Homo sapiens: one gene and its partners. The protein of the gene in region 1 interacts with the protein of each later gene in a pairwise test. Each region holds a gene or a part of one and is shown in the gene's direction. Other genes may lie near its edges.

Region 1 (6,272 bases):
TTTTCCCTTTACAGACTGACCCTACCCTTTCTGTTACAAAATACAGAAACGTTGCCAGTGTTTTTTGGTTGGTTGGTTGGTTTGAGGTGTTTTGTTTTGAGGACTGTTCACTTTTCTTTCTTTCTCATCGCATGTAAACAAGACATTAAAGTTTAAACAAAATTTAATTTCACCTTAGTTCCTAAAGCTGACTTTATCTATTTGTCTGTGTTTCACTCAGTGTAACCTTGGGATCCCTGGAGCAGGTTTTTATTTTGTTTTCTTTTCTTTTTTCCTTGGAATGCTTGTGTCTCACGGCCAGTGTGTCTAAGGGTTAGGAGCTGCACCTTCCCGCAAGTCAAAAGGGCCAGCCGAATCCTGCCTGAGCCGGTGCTTTGCTGCTTCCTACACAGGTTTCAGACACACTGATCCTAATCTTCTCAGTCAAACTCCAAGACACACAGTGTCAACAGTTACGGCAGCCACAAGTTCATTATCTACATAGGGCGCAATTACTTGGCAGCTACCTAGACTGTGAGGTTTTTGTGGGTCCCCAAAGAACTCATATCCTGAAGAGAGAGACTAATCAAGGCGGGTCCTCTTGGCAGGGACATTGAAAGGGTGGGTTACAATTGATAGGAATTTTAATTTGTGAGGACTTAATCTGATATGCTTTTGGAACAAGATAGTGTAGATGTACTTATTGTCCATCTTCTGGGAGCATTCTTTGAAGATTCATTTGATTGTATGGTGATAGTATTGTTGAAAGGACACAGAATTTTATTACATGAATCTGCTTCTATCCTTCACCTGCCTAACTGCCCAGGGCCACTGCAGTGATTTATTCAGCCTGCATTGTGGTGAGGGAAGGGACGACTAATGTCTCAAACAGTGTGGTGTTCCCTAGTCTGCTCTCCTGCTTGCTGAAAGCTCCTTTTTGGGAAGGCAGATGCTTAGTTTTTCAGGAAGCACTCACTTAGGATGCAGTATTTTAGTTTTAAATAATACGCACTGGTTGACCTTTGAGCGGACAGAACTTTTGTTGCTAGAACCTGGTGGCACTGGTGTGGGTGATGTTAATTAAGGGCCAGGTCCTGACACCAACAAAGCCAGGAAGTTTGGAATATATAATCAAGACAAGCCAGAAGTAGCTACAGAGTGGGCCTGTACTGTCCTTCCGTCTCTCGTCTATTGAAAGTAGGGGCCCTGGATCCAGGAGGCCAGCTTATCAGGAGACAAGAGTGCATTCCTTTACCTGCCTTGGTCGGAGCACTTGAACACTTTTACAGAGCACTCCCAACCCCTACCATTCCCACCCCCAAGACAGGGTCTCACTCTGTTTAGGCTAGAGTGCAGTGGTGTGATCTTGGCTCACTGAAACCACAGGCTCAGGCCACCACACCAGCTAATTTTTTTTTTTTTTTTTTTTTTTTTTGTGAGGATGGGGTTTCGCCATGTTGCCCAGGCTGGTCTTGAACAACTGGGCTCAAGCAATCCACCTGCCTCGGCCTCCTAAAGTGCTGAAATTATAGGTGTGAGCCACTGCACCTGGCCTCCACAGTGTTTTTGAGGGTAAACGTATGCTATGCCACGTCAGGATGATCTGTCTTTGACTTCTGTCGGGTGAAAAACAGGATTGGGCATAGATGACTTCACCAAATCAATTGTGTTTTCAGGTTAAATAATGCCCTTTGTCACACCTTTTAGCATACAAAATTAGACTTACCAGTATTGTTGCCTTTAAATTTAATCCAGTCTTGCCTCAAGAGCAGCAGTTCTCAAAGTGTGATCTTTGGTTCCCTAGGGCCCTTTCAGGGAGTGTGCAGGGTCTGCCCTTGAGCAACATATCTGTGTGAGGCTGGATTTCCTTCATCTGCTTCAAGCAGAACAACATACTGCAACAGATTAAACACAGATGCAGATACAGGAATTCAGCTGTCTTCTGCAAATCTAGACATTAAAATGTAAAACAATGCCACTTTTTTAACTAAAAATATTTTTTTACATAATATAATTTTTTTCCTCAAAATATATTGTTTATATTCATTTTTCATACTTATTTTTAAATGAATTAATATTTTTAACTTTCTGTTTTAGTTTCTGATATAGTAAATAATGATAGATATTAGTCCACATAAAGAATGTTTTCGGTCCCTAATAATTTTAAGAATGTAAAGGGCAGGGCTTGAGGCCAAGAGGCTTGAGAACTGCTCACTAGGGGACCCTCTTGCTAGAAACACCTACTTCTCCGTTCTCTTGGTCCTGTGTAGTGGGAAATGGTATAGCACAGGCCTAGGTTTATGAGAACTGCTCACTAGGGGACCCTCTTGCTAGAAACACCTACTTCTCCGTTCTCTTGGTCCTGTGTAGTGGGAAATGGTATAGCACAGGCCTAGGTTTATACAAACTTTCAGAGAAAAATGGCTCCAGTGTTTACTATAAAACAAGTAGCAGATACGGTCAGATGACAGTCGTGGTGCTGATGGCCATTGCTAGTCCGGGAGCCCTTGGATGTGTGTGCCTGCCTTTCTCTTGATTCAGTACACATCGTTTGCTCTGTGTTCTGTCTGTGGCCCAGCAGCCCATTCTTGTTTTAAATATACGGACTTCAGTCTCTCACTTTAATTTTGCTCTTCTTATTAGCAATGGCTCGGGTAAAGCATTTTTTTCCCATTTAAGTTTTTTGGAGATCTGTTCCTGAAAGAACAGATTTGTTTGTTTTTGTTTTTTTAACTTTCAGTAGTTTTTGGGGAACAGGTGGGTTTTGGTTACATGGATAAGTTCTTTAGTGGTGATTTCTGGGACTTTGGTGCACCCAGCACCTAAGCAGTGTACACTGGTATGTTGTCTTTGTTTTATCCCTCCACCCCTCCCACTCTTCCATCCTGAGTGCCCAAAGTCCATTATATCATTCTTATGCCTTTGCATCCTCATAGTTTAGCTCCAACTTATATAAGTGAGAACATATGATATTTGGTTTTCCATTCCTGAGTTACTTCATTTAGAATCATGGCCTCCAGCTCCATCGAAGTTGCTACAAAATACATTATTTTTTTCCTTTTTATGGCCGAGTATAATATTCCATGATGTATAAATATCACATTTTCTTTATCCACTCGTTGGTTGATGGGCACTTAGGTTGGTTCCATGTTTTTGTAGTTGTGAATTGTGCTGCTATAAGCATGCGTGTGCATGTGTCTTTTTCATTTAGTGACCTCTTTTCCTTTGGGTAGATACCCAGTAGAGGGATTGCTGGATCGAATGGTAGATCGTTAGTTCTTTAAGGAATCTCCATACCGTTTTCCTTAGTGGTTGTACTAGTTTATATTCCCACCAGCATTGTAAAAGTGTTCCCTTTTCACCACATCCACACCAACATCTGTAATTTTTTTGCTTTTTAATTATGGCCATTCTTGCAGGAGTAAGGTGGTATCACATTGTGGTTTTAATTTGCATTTCTCTGATAATTAGTGATGTTGAGCATTTTTTCATGTTTGTTGGCTGTGTATCTTCTTTTTCAGATTGTCTATTCATGTCCTTTGCCCATTTTTTGATGGGATTATTTGGTTTTTTGTTTGTTTGTTTGTTTCTTGCCGATTGTTTGAGTTCCTTGTAGACTCTGGGTGTTAGTCCTTTGTCGGAATCATAGTTTGCGAAGATTTTCTCCCACTCTGTGGGTTGTCTGTTTACACTGCTATTTCTCTTGCTGTGCAGAAGCCTTTTAGTTTAATTAGGTCCCATTTATTTATGTTTTTGTTGCATTTGCTTTTGGGGTCTTAGTCATGAATTCTTTGCCTAAGCCAATGTCTGGAAGAGTTTTTCCGATGTTATCTTCTAGAACTTGTATTGGTTTCAGGTTTTAGCTTTCAGCCTTTGACCATCTTGAGTTGATTTTTGTGTAAGGTGAGAGATGAGGATCTGGTTTCTGAAGGGGAATTTGTGTTGGCCTAGTGGAGCCTGAGATGCAGGTTAATCCTCCTTATGGAAGGCAACTATTACTAGGATGGGTACCCGATGACACCACACTTTTTCTCTCAGCTGAGCTTTCAACCTTAAATGGGGCATTAGTGCCGGGGCACCTCTGTATAGTCCTAACCCACTGGAGAGGCCTTCCTAAGGAGAGCAGGTTAAGCAGATGTCTGAGTCTTCTAGTTCCGCCTGATCGTCATCGTAGATTTCCTCCTAGGAAAACAAGGACTGTTTTATCATTTGACTCCCACACTATCATCTGCAAATAAGTGCATACCTAGGAATGATGACTTGGCCCCATCAGAATGCTCACAGCAGCCCGCCTGGTTGTTGTAGGAGTGTGTGATAGAAAGGAATGGGGGAGAACAGCCATTGACACTGGTAGGGTAAGAAAGGAACTGGGATGCTTGCCCTTCTGACCCTAGAGATTTATGCCCTAGGTGTGGCTGTATGAATGAGAAGTTTTTCTGCCTCCCTACTAGTATACAGGTCATCACTCACCATCACCAAGGCAGCGGAGGAAGAGAGCATCAGTACAGGATCTGGTGTTAGCCTTAGGTCCAAGGCCCAGCTCTGAACCTCACCATGTGACCTGGGCACATCACCTAGTTACTCAAGACCCGGTTTTCTAATTTTTCTAAAAATAGAGCCATGCCTGTCCTATCTGCTTCACAGAATTGCTAATAAGATTTAGATTAAATGAAATTACAGATGGGAAAGCTGAAAAATATGTATGAATATTAGTTTTGTAAAAGGTTTATCCTACAAAAAGGGTTTCTGCTCTTTGTCCCTTGCCCTCTGGACTCATAAGTCTTCTGTTCTTTTCTCCAGGTTACCTGTGCATGACAGATGAGTGGTTCTCTGAGTATGTCTACGAAGTGGTGGTGGACAGGAAGCATGTCCCTGAAGAGGTGCTAGCTGTGTTAGAGCAGGAACCCATTATCCTGCCAGCATGGGACCCCATGGGAGCTTTGGCTGAGTGATACTGCCCTCCAGCTCTTTCCTCCTTCCATGGAACCTGACGTAGCTGCAAAGGACAGATCCAGGGACTGAAGCCAAAGTTATGCAAGGGACTGTGTGTTGCCACAGGACACAGTCAGATTTCCAGTCTCCACCAGGAACCTCTTCAGAAAGTGTGCTTTATGCTGAAACAGAATACTGTTAAAGGAAAAAAAAGAGGGGGGAAGATCAGGTCATACTATCTACTCTCCTCATCTCTAACAGCTCAGGATCTCTTAGCATTTTAATTAGATGTAATTGTTTGTCTTTAACTGTCAAAAAGTTTGGTTCTGTGTCTGTGTTTTAATAAGACGAGAGGACGAGCGATTGAGGTGTATGGAGAGAAAACAGACCTAATGCTCCTTGTTCCTAGAGTAGAGTGGAGGGAGGGTGGCCTAAGAGTTGAGCTCTCGGAACTGCATGCTGCTGGACAGTATCACTGTCTTTCCTAGATGGCAGTCACTGAATTCCATTTTTTCAAGGTAATTTCTTGTGCCTCTAATAGCCCAAGAATGGGAGGTTGATCAGATCTGACATGATTCCTTCCTGTTCTGAACTGTGGGGTGTGCACATCTCTGCTTGAGTCAGGTTTGAGTAGAGGCTTAGAGACAGTTGGGTGAGAACAACCAAAATCTTATCATGGTCTCAGTCATAATCATTAGGGGGAACTCTAGCCAAATGGTTTAACTTCTGCCTGTGGAACTGGGGATTGGGTGGGCAGGAAAAGGTGATATCCATTCTTTCTGATAACTAGATGGTGCTGAGAAGCTTTTGAATAAAAACTTTGCTAAATGAGAATAAGCTGATTTATGTGATCTGTCTGAGAAGTGTTTGTTTATCTACAAAAGAAAGCAGCCAGGTGGCTCATGTTCTTGAAAGTGAAAAAACAGGAAAAGGGCTTCCCTCTTCAGCTTCTCTGCAAGATGTGTACTCTTTCCCAGACCGCCGATTCTCACCGGCATCTGCAAAGGGCTTCCAAGCGCCTGTTTAAGAAGGACTGTTCCCCTACCGCATAAATGTTCTACCCAGATCCAGGGTCCCTACAAGGGTGGGGAGTGAGGCTCTGTTGGGCCCAGCCTTAGAATAGGTCAGTAAGTTATCTTACTGAGATTGGGCCACCCTTTCAAGAACAAGGGTAAAATAGAAAACATTTTCACAAAAAAAACTGAATTTGCCCCAACAGAAGGGAAGTGATCAGTATGGAAGGGTTGAAATGTATCAAGGAATGTAGAATAAAGAACATGATTGTTATGTTGGTCAGCTACACAAAAAGCAACTGTAGAAGAGTCTTAACAGGGTTGGAAAAAAGGTAAAACGAAAATCCA
Region 2 (7,030 bases), on another chromosome or scaffold:
TTCCTGATCAGATTCTCATTACAATCTTTTTCTTTTCCCAGCTGTGCTTTTCTTCTTTGTTCCTTTTGTACTTATTGTAATAAATATTTGGCAAGTCTGAATGCTGTGGCATTTCTGAAAAAGCATTTCTTTTAAAATCACTGTTTTGTTTTAGGCACTGTGCATCCCCACCTTTCAGCTCCTAGAACAGCAGAATGGTCTCCAGAATCACCCTGACACTGTAGATGACCTGTTCCGGCTAGCCACCAGGTAAATCCTTCTGAAGAGCCCATTTCTTAATTGCTCATCCTATCACTGCTTAGTCTTGCCATCTGACCCTTGGTTGTTTTATTCTTGTAAAATGAAGTCACTGGAGTAAGTAGATTAATGATTCATAACCCAAAGGTAAATTGCAAGCTGATATATCCCCAGCAGTGACGCAGAGTATTGCGGGAAGCAAGGGATAAAGGAGCTGAGTTCCTGCCAGGAAGGAGGGCTCACACACAAGACAATGCAGTGTGCCTGGCAAAACACTTGACTAGATCATCTCTACAGTCCTCTGTAGGTTTTAACTGTTCGTGCTGTTGCGATTTCATGTTTCACCTCAACCTTCTCTTTGAGAAGCTTAGCATCCTTTAGATATAATCAGTTTCGGAATAAAGAATGTTTGGGATTTTAAGATGCCTTAGCAGTTATCTCATACTGTATTTCTCAGCTCTACTCACAGCCTACTTTATCAGTAGCACTGATAATATGATTGCCAAACTTCTGCTTGAATTCCTTAGTCCCTAACTAAGGAATTTGAACCAAAACTGTTACCATATCAGCATTAAAAAAAAAAAAAAAAGAAAAATCATTATTTTCGAAACAACAAAAGCCCAACTGTTATATCATTTACAAATGCAAAGTAATGTTGACTTGATTGTTTCATCTTAGGATTGATTTTTTTTCTTTTTTCTTTTTTGAGATGGACTCTCACTCTGTTGCCCAGGCTGGAGTGCAATGGCATGATCTCGGCTCACTGCAACCTCTGCCTCCTGGGTTCAAGTGATTCTCCTACCTCAGCCTCCCGAGTAGTTGGGATTACAGGTGCCCACCACCATGCCCAGCTAATTTTTGTATTTTTAGTAGAGACGGGGTTTTGCCATGTTGATCAGGCTGGTCTCAAACTCCTGGCCTCAGGTGATCCGCCCACCTTGGCCTCCCAAAGTCCTGGGATTACAGGCGTGAGCCACCGTACCTGGCAGGATTGAATATTGAACCCTTTTTTTTTGTTAGTTTTTGGATAGGTTAGAAAAACCCTTTTTTTTTCCTTTTCTTTTTTTTTTTTTTTCAGTTGATAGAATTGTTGGATGGGCTGTCACCCTCTGTTTTCTTTTTTTTTTTTTTTTTTTTTTTTTTTGAGACGGAGTCTCGCTCTGTCGCCCAGGCTGGAGTGCAGTGGCGTGATCTTGGCTCACTGCAAGCTCTGCCTCCTGGGTTCACGCCATTCTCCTGCCTCAGCCTCCCGAGTAGCTGGGACTACAGGCACCCGCCACCACACCCAGCTAATTTTTTGTATTTTTAGTAGAGACGGGGTTTCACTGTGTTAGCCAGGATGGTCTCGATCTCCTGACCTCGTGATCCACCCTCCTCGGCCTCCCAAAGTGCTGGGATTACAGGCCTGAGCCACCACGCCCGGCACACCCTCTGTTTTCTTAGGGTATGTATTCCTTGGAAAACTAGTCCCTAAAAATGTTCTTTATACAAATGATGAAACAAGTTTGGAGTATACTGTACCTTTTTCTGAAGAGATTCTCCCTGTATATTAAAGGAACTTAGAAACCTGATAGTAGTTTAAAGGAAAAAATAAACAAGCAAAACTACTTTCAAAATCCAGCAGCATTTCCCAAGCTTACCTGAACACACAACCTTTTCTTTGAGGGATTCCTGTTGACATCCTGGGAACTGGAATTCTGTGAACTTTAGTTTGGGAAATGCTGTTCTAGCATCTTTAGGACTTTTTAACCTAGGAGAGTTTCTACTTGTAGGTCCTTTTGACTGGTCTTTCTTGATTTATAAAATCTTAGTTGGAAATAGGATGTGGTGACACGTCTTTTAATATACTAATCTTAAGATATGGTCCTTTTTTTTTAAAGAGCAACTTTAGGTTCACTGCAAATTTGAGTGAAAAGTTGCTCCCATATACCCCTCCCTCCTAACACACACAGCCTTCCCCTCTATTAGCATCCCCCACCAGAGTAATACAAACAGTGACCCTATATGAACACATCATTATCACCCAAAGTCCATAGTTTACATTAGGCTTCACTCTTGGTGTACATTCTGTGGGTTTTGACAAATGTGTAATGACATGTATCCACTGTTATAGTATCATACAGAATACTTTCACTGCCAAAAAAAATCCTCTATGTTCTGTCTATTCATCCCTTCTTCCCTGAAACCCCCCACCAACCACTGATCTTTTTTACTGTCTTCATAGTTTTGCCCTTTTACCCTGGCTGCTTTTATAGCCTAATCTTGTCATTTATACCTAGTCTCACTTTCCACACCAGGTTTATTCAGCGTAGCCCTGTCACCTTGCTGCGGAGCCAAGTGGTCATCCCTATCTTACAGTGGGCCATTGCCTCTACTACCCTGGACCACCGGGATGCCAATTGTAGTGTCATGAGGTTTCTACGAGACCTCATTCATACAGGGGTAGCCAATGATGTAAGTATAAAAATGATACCATTTCTACTTAACAGCTTTTATCTCCTATCTCTTTGTCATTCCTTAGGAGAAAACCAGCATCCCAGTATTTCCTTACTTGATCTATATTGGTAGACATATATCATAGTGGATCATTCACTAGCCAAAATATCAACTAAGACACTTGTGCTGGGTGCTTTAGGCTATATAAAGCAGTCTAAAACTGTTCATGCTCCCAAATCATTTGGTGTCTAGTTGAAGAGAGAAACAAGTTTAAAGAGTTAAGTAACAACAAGATGCCAGTGTTTGGTGTTTTTCATTTGTTTTTGAAACAGGGTCTTGCTCTGTCGCCTAGGCTGGAGTACAGTGATGTGAATCTCAAGGGATCCTCAGCTACTGAGTAGCCAGGACTACAGACATTCAACACCATGCCTGGCTAGTTTTTATATTTTTTGTAGAGATGGCATTTCACCATGTTGCCCAGGTTGGTCTTGAACTCCTGGCCTCAAGTGATCCTCCCACCTTGGCCTCCAGTATTTGATTGTCAGATGAGTGATAAAAGTCATGATTGGTATGAGATCAGACGAGGGAAAGCTCTAGACCAAAAAGAGTTGGAATAACTTTATGGAAGGGGAGGGATTTAAATGAAGCCATGAATTAGAGGTAGAATTTTGATGGATTAGAGAGGCAGATAGTCATACTGCCTCTAAGCCAAGATCAGAGCAAGTCAGAATAGTACTAAGTTTGTTAGTAGACAACTAAGCAGTGGGAGTAGTAAAGTGCTTCACAGGAATTTCGAAGGTAGGTTTGATTAGATGTGGAGTAGAATTGTAGACAGGGGAGAGCAGTGAAGAAGTAAGTATTCTGCATTCTATTTAGGCTATTCATTTAAGAAGTTTGGCAGTAAAAGAGAGAAGAAAATAACTAGAAGGGAAAGGCAATTTAAAAAATATTTTTCTCAAGGTATTAGAAATACATGTGTATTTAAAGACCACAAGAAGGGCCAGGCGCAGTGGCTCACGCCTGTAATCCCAGCACTTTGGGAGGCCAAGGCGTGCAGATCACTTGAGGTCAGGAGTTCAAGACCAGCCTGGCCAACATGGTGAAACCCTGTCTCTACTAAAAATACAAAAATTAGCCAAGTGTGGTAGTGTATGCCTGTAATCCCAGTTTCTAGGGAGGCTGAGGCAGGAGAATTGCTTGAACCCAGGGGATGGAGGTTTCAGTTAGCTAAGATCAGGCCACTGCACTCCAGCCTGGGTGACAGAGCAAGACGCTGTCTCAGAAAAAAAAAAATTAAAGACCGCAAGAAGAAAAAAAGGGTTTTTTTTTTTTCGATAGAAAAAATTAGATCTCTGATAGACGTCTTCAATTCTAATTTCAGTTGGTTTTGTTTTGTTTTGTTTTGTTGTGACTTGGGGTTCCGGCTGTGTTACCCAGACAGACTGTAGTGGCCATTCACAGGCGAGATCCCACTACAGATCAGAATGGAATTTTGACCCACTCTGTTTCTGACTTGGGCTGTTCACCCCTCCCTCCTTAGGCAACCCAGGAGTGGTTCCTCACTCCTGGGAGGTCACCACATTGATGCTGAACTTAGTACAGGCACCCAATTGGTATAGCATGCTCTAGCCCAGAACACTGGGTTCAAGCTGTTCCCCTACCTGCGCCTTTGGAGTGGCTGGGACTATGGTGTGTGCTGCCATGCCAGGCTGACTTAGTTTTTAAAAAAGGAAATAGGAACACAAGTTATTTTTCACATTAAAAAAAAATTAATACCATCACATAGAAGATGAAGAGAAAAAAATTTTAAAAATTGCTAACTTTAATTCTTAACCATGTTTTCTGCCTTCAAATCATGAAAAATCTAAGCATTAATCTCTGTTGAAACCCATGTTCATTCCTTGGATACTAATAAACTCCTTCATTTTCTTTCTAAAGACAAAAAACTTCTGGACTTTGTGAATCCAGCTGTCATTTTACACACACCTGCATACACACACACACAGCCACGCGTGCACACACACACACACTTTCCTATTAAAGAGAAATTACTAAAGGGGAAAGAGTGCTTGGTCTTTGGGAAGTTGAGACTAGAATTTATCTGATGTTCCTGCTTTCCTACATACAGCATGAAGAAGACTTTGAATTACGGAAAGAACTGATTGGACAGGTGATGAACCAGCTTGGACAGCAGCTTGTCAGCCAGCTGCTGCACACCTGCTGCTTTTGCCTCCCCCCCTATACCCTACCAGATGTGGCTGAAGTGCTCTGGGAGATCATGCAGGTTGACAGACCGGTAAGATTGTTTTCATGAGGAATTTATCTCATAGTCCCTAAATGTAATAGGCTTTGGTTCCTTAAGGCCAACCCTAATTTTGAAACTAGCCCTGTTTTCTGTCCATGGAACCAAATTTAGGCATATTGCCAAATTAGATTGGTAGATGAAGAGGCCCGTAAAGATCAGTAATTTATTATTGAGTTCTTTAAAGCATGTTTCTATGTCACTGTCATAGGGGGTATATTACCAGAAGTAAGTATCAAGCATTGAATTCAGTTGTGTGGCTGTCCAATGTGAAATTTGTTCACTTGTGAGAGATGCCCAAATGTCAGTTATATTAGTTACGTATTACTCAAGAAGTATTTAATCCTTTCAGACTTATTCTATAGCACTGTATTATTTCTTGGTGATACATCTAGCCAGAACATTTGGAAGCACATAATTGTCAAAGTAACCCACAATGTACAGTTGGATATATTTCCCCTTTGGATTTCTTTGAACCAGATCCTTTATCACCCACCTAAGGATGGAGTTGTTTTTTTAAAGCTATCTAATAATGCCCAAGTAATTTCAGTACTGGGCCACATGACCATAACTCAGGTTATGTGTACTGTGTGAAAGTTGAGTAGAATGGTAAAGTATAATATAACCTGAAATCATTTTTAAAATGGAATTTATAATTTTTAATATTACTGTAAAAGCAGTTCAGGAAAGTACTCATTGGGACCTAGTTAAAGTGAGCTGTCTTACAGAACCACAGAATATAAAATTGATAATAATAATATATAACAGATAGTACCTATTCCTCTCTGGTTCAATACACATGTTCCATTTCAACCTGATAGAGTAGCATATTTGTTTTTCTAAAGAAAAGTACTTTTTGAGCCTCCAGGAATCAGCAAATTTAATTCAAAAGTCCTTGACCTGAGGGAAAAAGTCTTCATACTCTGCTTAAACTTTTTTACAAATACATTTGGTTCCCAAGTAACAGAAAACTTATGTAAATCTAACTTTATGAAAACATTCTTGATTGTAAGCATATTGTTAAGTGCGAACAACAACAACAAAAAATGAGAACAAGAAGTTTGGACAGGAATAGAAACCAGGTAGCCATGTACTCTAAGGAGTGTACTGTATATCAGCCAGACACAATGGCTCATGCCTGTCTTCCCAATACTTTGGGAGACCAAGGCAGGAGGATCACTTGACGCCAGGAGCTTGAGACTACCAGCCTGGGCAACATAGACCCCATCCCTACAAAAAAAAAAAAAATTTTTTTTCTTTTTAATTAGCTGGGTGTGGTGGCATACATCTATAGTCCCAGCTACTCAGGAGGGTGAGGTAGGAGGATTGCTTAAGCCCAGGAGTTCCAGCCTGCAGTGAGCTATGATCATGCCACTGCACTCCAGTCTGAGCTGCATAGCAAGACCCTGTCTCAAAAAAGAAAAAGTTTGCTATATAACAACTATTATGTATTTTTAAGAATTAAGGAGCTGTTATGTATCCATAATTAAGAAATGCTTAGTACTTCATGAGCATTTATAATACTTTTGCTCTGGCCTATTATGGCCATAAATGAATATGATGGGAAAATATATAATGTAAAAAAAATTAGGTATAAAAGAGTAATTTTACAGCCCAAAACTATGACTGAAGTATACATTCCACTTAAGAAAGGGATGAAGAAATATTAGTGCTGACCCAAAGGACAACAATTAAACTGAAAATAAGAACCCAGAGGAAGTCTGTAGAATTTTTATTTTAGAAAGGAAGGAAGTAAAGGGAGTAGACAATTTTTGTGCATAGAAAAGGCATAAAGAGAATTCTTAGATATACTTATATAAAAAATATATAAGTAAATTAAACAGCAACAAGAGCAAGGTTTTTTAACACAAAGAACAGGCAGATATCACAAAGGAACTGAATGGATAGGACTTATTCTGAGAGAGATGGCCTTAAAATCCTTAAGATTCTGGACTCATATGTCTCATATGTATACTTTCTGACATGGTGGCTTAGTATACTTTTTGCCCCTGCTCTTTCAGGTATCTGAACCTTTACTCTGGATCACTTTTGATC
Region 3 (7,030 bases), on another chromosome or scaffold:
AGAAAATGCAGATCTCACTATGACTACCAAGGACTTCTTGTAGAATTTTGGTATCTCTTTATAGTGCATAAAGCTTAATACTGTTTTATTTTGTGAGTAATTATCCAGAAAGTGTAAGTATCCACTGTCTCTTAACTTTTTGTCATTTATGATTGTTCTTTTAACCTTCCCAATAGTAAACTATGTAACAAAAGAAAAAAAATCTATGTAATCATTAAAAAGAAGGACTTTAATATGTATCTGGAAATATTTTAGTGAAATAAATACGGAGAAAGTGTTTACTTCCTATTTTACTTTTTCTCCCCAATTTTTTCTTCCATCTATAGGTGTGACAGATCAATTGTCAATAAATCAAGGCAGACTGCACTGGACATTGCTGTATTTTGGGGTTATAAGCATATAGCTAATTTACTAGCTACTGCTAAAGGTGGGAAGAAGCCTTGGTTCCTAACGAATGAAGTGGAAGAATGTGAAAATTATTTTAGCAAAACACTACTGGACCGGAAAAGTGAAAAGAGAAATAATTCTGACTGGCTGCTAGCTAAAGAAAGCCATCCAGCCACAGTTTTTATTCTTTTCTCAGATTTAAATCCCTTGGTTACTCTAGGTGGCAATAAAGAAAGTTTCCAACAGCCAGAAGTTAGGCTTTGTCAGCTGAACTACACAGATATAAAGGATTATTTGGCCCAGCCTGAGAAGATCACCTTGATTTTTCTTGGAGTAGAACTTGAAATAAAAGACAAACTACTTAATTATGCTGGTGAAGTCCCGAGAGAGGAGGAAGATGGATTGGTTGCCTGGTTTGCTCTAGGTATAGATCCTATTGCTGCTGAAGAATTCAAGCAAAGACATGAAAATTGTTACTTTCTTCATCCTCCTATGCCAGCCCTTCTGCAATTGAAAGAAAAAGAAGCTGGTAAGAAATGAATGCTGCTTTTCATTGGTAAAATCTGGTTTTTAGACTTGAGTTGGAGTTGTATGTATTTGCACTTTCCAGGGGCACTCTTTTTCCAGTAAGCAGTGAAATTAGACTGTCTTCATCAGAAACTTCTTAAAGTTCTCACCCTAGGGGACTACTCTCCTGGGCAGTTAGTAGTTCTAATCAGCCCAGACTGATTTCCTGAGAATTAACCCTGGTGCATGATGATCTCATTTGATTCTTCATTGAATAATTCTTAGTTCCTGCTACACGTAGAACATGATGGCAAAGACTTTGACTGTTTTGTTTTGTATTCTGTTGATGGGGCTTTTTATGGCATGGTAAGAAATTGGGGTTTGATTCTAAAGCCATTTAAATGTAACCTAACCTGTGTTTAAAATATTTTTTTAAAAAAGACACTGCACACTGGCTGCATCATAGAGCATAAATTGTACACATGTAAGTAAGTAAGTGTGAAAGTTGGGAGTCTTGTTAAGAGGGAATTGAGTATTACAGGTGCCCAAGTAAGAGATTGCAATGGCTTGAGTTAGAATGGAGGCAGTGGAGATGGAGACAAAGGGAGAATCTGAGGTATTCTCGAGGTAGAAGGGATAGGGCTTGATCTGTAGGTTGAGACCCTTATAAGTGAGAGATGGTGGTAATATGGCATGAATTAAGGTACTGATAGTAGAAATGGAGGAAAGAGGGTATATGCAAGATAAAGTTTGGAGAGAAAATCACTGGTCTTTGCTATTGAATTGGATATGGGATATATAATAATGAAGGAAAAGATTAAGAATGACTGCTAGGCTAGAGACTTTAATAATTTGGTATATAGTGATACCATTTCTCAATAATATAGGATGATGGTTAGAGCAAGGAAAGCAGGACAGACTTGGATTAAAAAAATCAAGAGTTTACTTTTGGGCATACTAAGTTTTAGAAATGGACATTACAATCAGATGTCTGAACTGGAAATACCCATATGGCAGTCATCAACACACAGATACTTAAATCCCAAAAAACTACTGAGATTACTTGGAGAGTTGAGAGGAAGCAAGAAAAACTCAGAATAAGACCTGAATCCCCCTAAATTTAAAGGTAAGCTGCAAGCAGGAGAGCCATCAAAGGAGTTGGAAACAGTGTGGCCATGAGGTAGGAAGAGAGCAAGAGGCCTCAGGGAAACCAAGACAGCAGAGTATTTCCAGGAGGGAGTGGTCAAATGTATTGAATGCTGTTATGAACTTGAGTAAGATGAAGGCAAAGTGGTTTTTTTGTTTTGTTTTGTTTTTTAAAGCATCTTTGTCTTTGGTAATATGAAGCTATTGATGAACTTGACAAGAGAAACGTCAGTGGAGTGAAACGAACAGAAACCAGATTATGGTAGACTGATGAGTTACTGGGAAGTTAGGAATAGGTCACTTGTCAGTGACCACCTTCCCTTAGGTGATAGAGGTCCTTCCAGAGACTGCTTAAATATCTCCTCCTCAAAGTCTGGTGTGGTATGTTTTATTCTCCACACCTGTGGAGAAATCATCAAACTTTTTTAAGAAAATTTATTTTCTTTAGACATATATATATATATATATATATATCATTTTAAGATCAAAAAGATCTGATAAATGAGCTAGTTGCTTGCTTTTTTCCCTTGTAGGAAAACTGAGGCCTTTTAACTCACTTGCTCTATAAGTTTACACAGTTACTTAACTTTTCTGTGACTCAGTTTACTCCTAAAGAAAATGATAATAATAGTATCTATCTTCTTTAGGGTTGCTCTAAACATTAAATAATCTATATAAAATTCCTTGCATGGTGCTTGGCACATTGTAAGTACTCAATAAATGTTAGCTTTTCTTATTGTGATGATTCTGAAATAATGTAAATACCCTAGTGTAAGTTACATATTACAAGGTTACGTAGCAGGCAAAAACGTAATGTTGTCTATTCATTACAACTGTTTTATTTATTTTTCCCAGTTTAAACGATGTTAGAATTTTTGTTATTATTTTGTTCATTTCAAAAATCTGTAGACCAAATAATCTATTTTAGGGAGGGTAACTTTGTCAAGCATTTAACATATAGCATTTCTAGTCTTATTGCCTCAACTGTAATATTTCTGGCCAGGCCATATTAACTTTTTTTGAACTACCAGAGTAAAACCTATAGCTAAAGTGTATATATTTTAAGATTTATCCTATTAGGCATTTTTTGGTAAACAAAGTTAACCATGAATGTAGTAAATGCAGTGTGTTTTATACTGTGTACATGCAGTCTCCAGTTGAAAACAGGTTGTGTTCCACATGGCTTGGACCATCAATGGCATAGTCACCAAGAGAGTGGTGATAGCCTCCTACAGTTTCCTAGTAATATTTCCTTTAGAGTACAAATCTCACTTAAGAACTGACTTTGTGGTATATTTTTATTAAAATCACTATTGTAAAATCACTGTTTGTAAACTTACTCTACACTAGAATCATGAATACCCCAAATTTTAAAATCACCTACAGTAAAAGCCTGATCTAATATAGGATGTAAGATAGATGTCAGTATGTCTATCTTATATGAAAGTTATATTTTATTCAAACAAAAAAATCTAATTTTTGTAATCCAGAAAATTAAATCTTTTACTTTAAAAGAAGAATACGCATTATAAAAATAGAAATACTAAAACCCCTGATCACACAGCTATTCTTATTGTAGCTTGAGAACATTTTACTTATATATTGATTTTAATTTCTTACAGAATTAAAATTTTTGTGCTTTTCTTTTTTTTGAAGGGGTTGTAGCTCAAGCAAGATCTGTTCTTGCCTGGCACAGTCGATACAAGTTTTGCCCAACCTGTGGAAATGCAACTAAAATTGAAGAAGGTGGCTATAAGAGATTATGTTTAAAAGAAGACTGTCCTAGTCTCAATGGCGTCCATAATACCTCATACCCAAGAGTTGGTAAGCCCTTTATTTTATATCTCAGCCACCTGGATCTTGGGGAATAAGATATTTTGGAAAGAGAAAATTTGTGAGGAGCTAAAGAGTTTTCCTTTTTATGGAAAACATGTCTAACCATTAAGAATGTGTTAAAGTGTTACACACTTTCATGATTTTTAAGTAAAAAACATGGTACATCAATAGCCATTTCTTAACTTTGGGTTACTCACTATAATTTGATATGTTATGATACATGATTTCAAAAGCCAACCAATTTGGCTCTACTTAGTGGAGAAAAAGCCCCACTAAGTACAATTTATTGCCTGTTTGAGGCATTACTAAAGCAGTACAGCCTGGCCCTAGCTTTTCATTACTGTTAATGTCTGCCTGTATTCTCTCTTCTAATTGCTGCCTTGAGTCTGCTGTAGATTTGGAAATCTGGTAACCCAGACCTTTAAAACTGTGTGAAAGAAGAATAGATAGGCTCAGCAACACCTGAGGAGGCCTCTGGGGAGAAAAATACATGGCTTAGTGACATCTATTTTTGTTGCTCAAGAGCCTTTTACATTTAATTCCTAGTTCTTGGTCATGATATAGTGAGAAGAATTTGCTGAATTAGTAACTTCTAGAGAGATGAACTGTTATTTAAATTTTATTTAATGACTTTAATCATAGAATCACATTAGCTTTTAAAAACATTTTGTTAAGGGTTAGGATGGAAGAGGGAAATTAACTATTTACCGTGGTAAAATTTGAATTTTCCTTATTTCCATGTATTACCTACTCAAATTTTTTTCTCATTAAAAAGTAATAATACACCTAACATCCATAAGTACAGAATAAATGTTGCTGTTAAGATTGGGGGAAGAAGGACAAAAATGGTCTTCCTTTAGCTTACTGACACTATTCTATACAATTTCCCTGAGATATTCTATTATCAGCTACATTAGGGCAGAAAGAAGCAATCTCTTACAACCAGACAAGAGTTCTATCCCTATAGGAGATATACCTTTATATTATCCTATCAGACAGTGTTTGTACAATGAATCTAAATTCGTTTTTCCTGCCATTCATGTATCTGATTTTTTTTTTCAACAGATCCAGTAGTAATCATGCAAGTTATTCATCCAGATGGGACCAAATGCCTTTTAGGCAGGCAGAAAAGATTTCCCCCAGGCATGTTTACTTGCCTTGCTGGATTTATTGAGCCTGGTAAGCCATTTCTTAATAATTTATATTTAATTTATAATTTTAAAATACAAAGTTTAGGTAACATTTGAGAAATAATCTCTGATAAATTATCATGTTATAAAACTCGGTTATTTTAAGGTATTTTAAAAATGATACAATTTTAATAATATAAACATGTAATTCTCATGTTTTATATGAGAATTATATAAATTACTTTTCCTAGTAATTTGGTCTGCTTTGTTAAAAATTCAGTATTTGCTCTTTGATATGTTGCTCTTGACCCAGGTATCTAGGTTCCACCTCATTTCCTTCTGTACTAGACTCAACTGTTACCTTTTCAAAGAGGCCTTGCTTGATTGCCCCAGATACATTAGTTAGCCCCCATACCCTGCATTCACAATCCCTATCATCCTTCCTGATTTTTCCCTATGGCACTCATCATCACCTAATACCGTATGTAAGTATGTATATATGTACTTACTAATTTATTATCTTATGTTTCAAGAATATAAGTTTCATAAGCACAGGGACTTTATTTTATCCACTGCTGTATCTGAAACCCTCATAGCACATGCCTGTAGCACATGTAGTAGAAAGTCAGTAAATGTTTGTGGAGTGAATGAATACATCTAATTAATATGTTTTATCTCAATTTCAATTTCCAATATTTGCATTGCTAGATAATAACAGTAAACATATAGTATCAGGCTGTGTTTTGGAGGAGGATCATATCATATATATAAAACAGTATCAGGCTATGCTTTATATATATTTTTTGTATGATCCTTATACAACCTTATAAAATACACTATTACAGTGATTTTGCAGGTAGGGGCACTAAGGCATAGGGACTAAATAATTTGCTCAAGATCAAACAGCTAATAAGTGATAAGGAAGGGATTTAAGCCTGGGCATGTTGGTTTCTGAGTTCTTGCTCCAAATCACTATGCTGTCTTTAGTAGTTCTAGGTCATTGTCTTAACTGCTGGGTAGTAATCCATTCATGGATATTCCACTATTTATCCATTCTGCTGATTGGACATTTAGTTTATTTTAAAGTTCTTATTACAAACAGCACTGCAATTAATATTTTTATACTTCTCCTTGTGCACATTTGCAAGAGTTATCTAGGTTATATACATAGAGTAGTACGACCAGCTCATGTGTTATGAGCATCTTAACCTTTTCTGTATGTTGCCAAGTTGTCTCTGAAGTGTTTCTGCCAATTTACACTTCCTCCAGCAGAACATGAAATGTTCCATTATTCCACATCTTCACCAAGTTAGGATTTTCAGACTTTTAAATTTGTCATTCTGAGGAGTGAATGAAATCGTATCTCGTTTTCATTTTCATTTTCTTGCCTATGGAACATCTTTTTTCAAATGTGTATTAGGCATTCAGTTTTCTTTTCTCTGAATTTTAGATGTTTATCTTTTACCTAGTTTTGTTTTCATTGTTTATCCTTTTTTATTCATTTTAAGAATTCTTAAATATGTAGCATATGCTAATCTTTTGTTAGTTATGGTTTTGCAAATACCTTACACTAGTCTATAATTATATTTTTACTATATGTGTTCTTTTGATTATTATAAGTTAATTTTCATGTAGGAAATTTATCAATCTATTTGAAATAGAAAGCTATATTTAAAATATATTTTGCTAAATACAGCAATATTTAGCAAAATGTTTCTAAACTTCCAGATTTTACTTAGAAATGATTTTACTTAGAAACAATTTCCCCTATTCTAATTCTTAATTCCAACAAATTAGAAATATAAAGTACATTTATAGGCATCACTTACCATAGCAGAGTCAGCAGTCATCTAGAGGAAAATAATTGCTTAGAAAAAGTATTAAATTTCATCTTATGTAGTTTGTAATCTTGTAATGACCTGAAAAGAGTTACCTGCAATAATTGTTTGACAACATAATAAAAAAAAGTTTCAGAATTTTAGTGTGAAAGAGCTATTTGTAAAAATCATGTAATTTATAACTAT

The links. Proteins that work in one complex are often made in the same cells at the same time.
Region 2: the proteins of BLMH (region 1) and TNPO3 interact in binary tests that used the Homo sapiens proteins (3 or more experiments, as listed by UniProt).
Region 3: the proteins of BLMH (region 1) and NUDT12 interact in binary tests that used the Homo sapiens proteins (3 or more experiments, as listed by UniProt).

Annotation. Positions count from the first base shown.
Region 1 is NC_000017.11:30,247,676-30,253,947, reverse strand, and holds the end of BLMH (bleomycin hydrolase), read left to right. Parts: intron 1-1,714; exon of another isoform or gene 1,715-1,874; intron 1,875-3,541; exon of another isoform or gene 3,542-4,161; intron 4,162-4,779; coding exon 4,780-4,931; 3' UTR 4,932-5,745; downstream 5,746-6,272. UniProt on the Homo sapiens protein: The normal physiological role of BLM hydrolase is unknown, but it catalyzes the inactivation of the antitumor drug BLM (a glycopeptide) by hydrolyzing the carboxamide bond of its B-aminoalaninamide moiety thus protecting normal and malignant cells from BLM toxicity.
Region 2 is NC_000007.14:128,968,087-128,975,116, reverse strand, and holds part of TNPO3 (transportin-3), read left to right. Parts: intron 1-154; coding exon 155-249; intron 250-2,534; coding exon 2,535-2,691; intron 2,692-4,801; coding exon 4,802-4,969; intron 4,970-7,030. UniProt on the Homo sapiens protein: Importin, which transports target proteins into the nucleus. Specifically mediates the nuclear import of splicing factor serine/arginine (SR) proteins, such as RBM4, SFRS1 and SFRS2, by recognizing phosphorylated SR domains.
Region 3 is NC_000005.10:103,552,765-103,559,794, reverse strand, and holds part of NUDT12 (NAD-capped RNA hydrolase NUDT12), read left to right. Parts: intron 1-326; coding exon 327-916; intron 917-3,696; coding exon 3,697-3,864; intron 3,865-4,941; coding exon 4,942-5,055; intron 5,056-7,030. UniProt on the Homo sapiens protein: mRNA decapping enzyme that specifically removes the nicotinamide adenine dinucleotide (NAD) cap from a subset of mRNAs by hydrolyzing the diphosphate linkage to produce nicotinamide mononucleotide (NMN) and 5' monophosphate mRNA.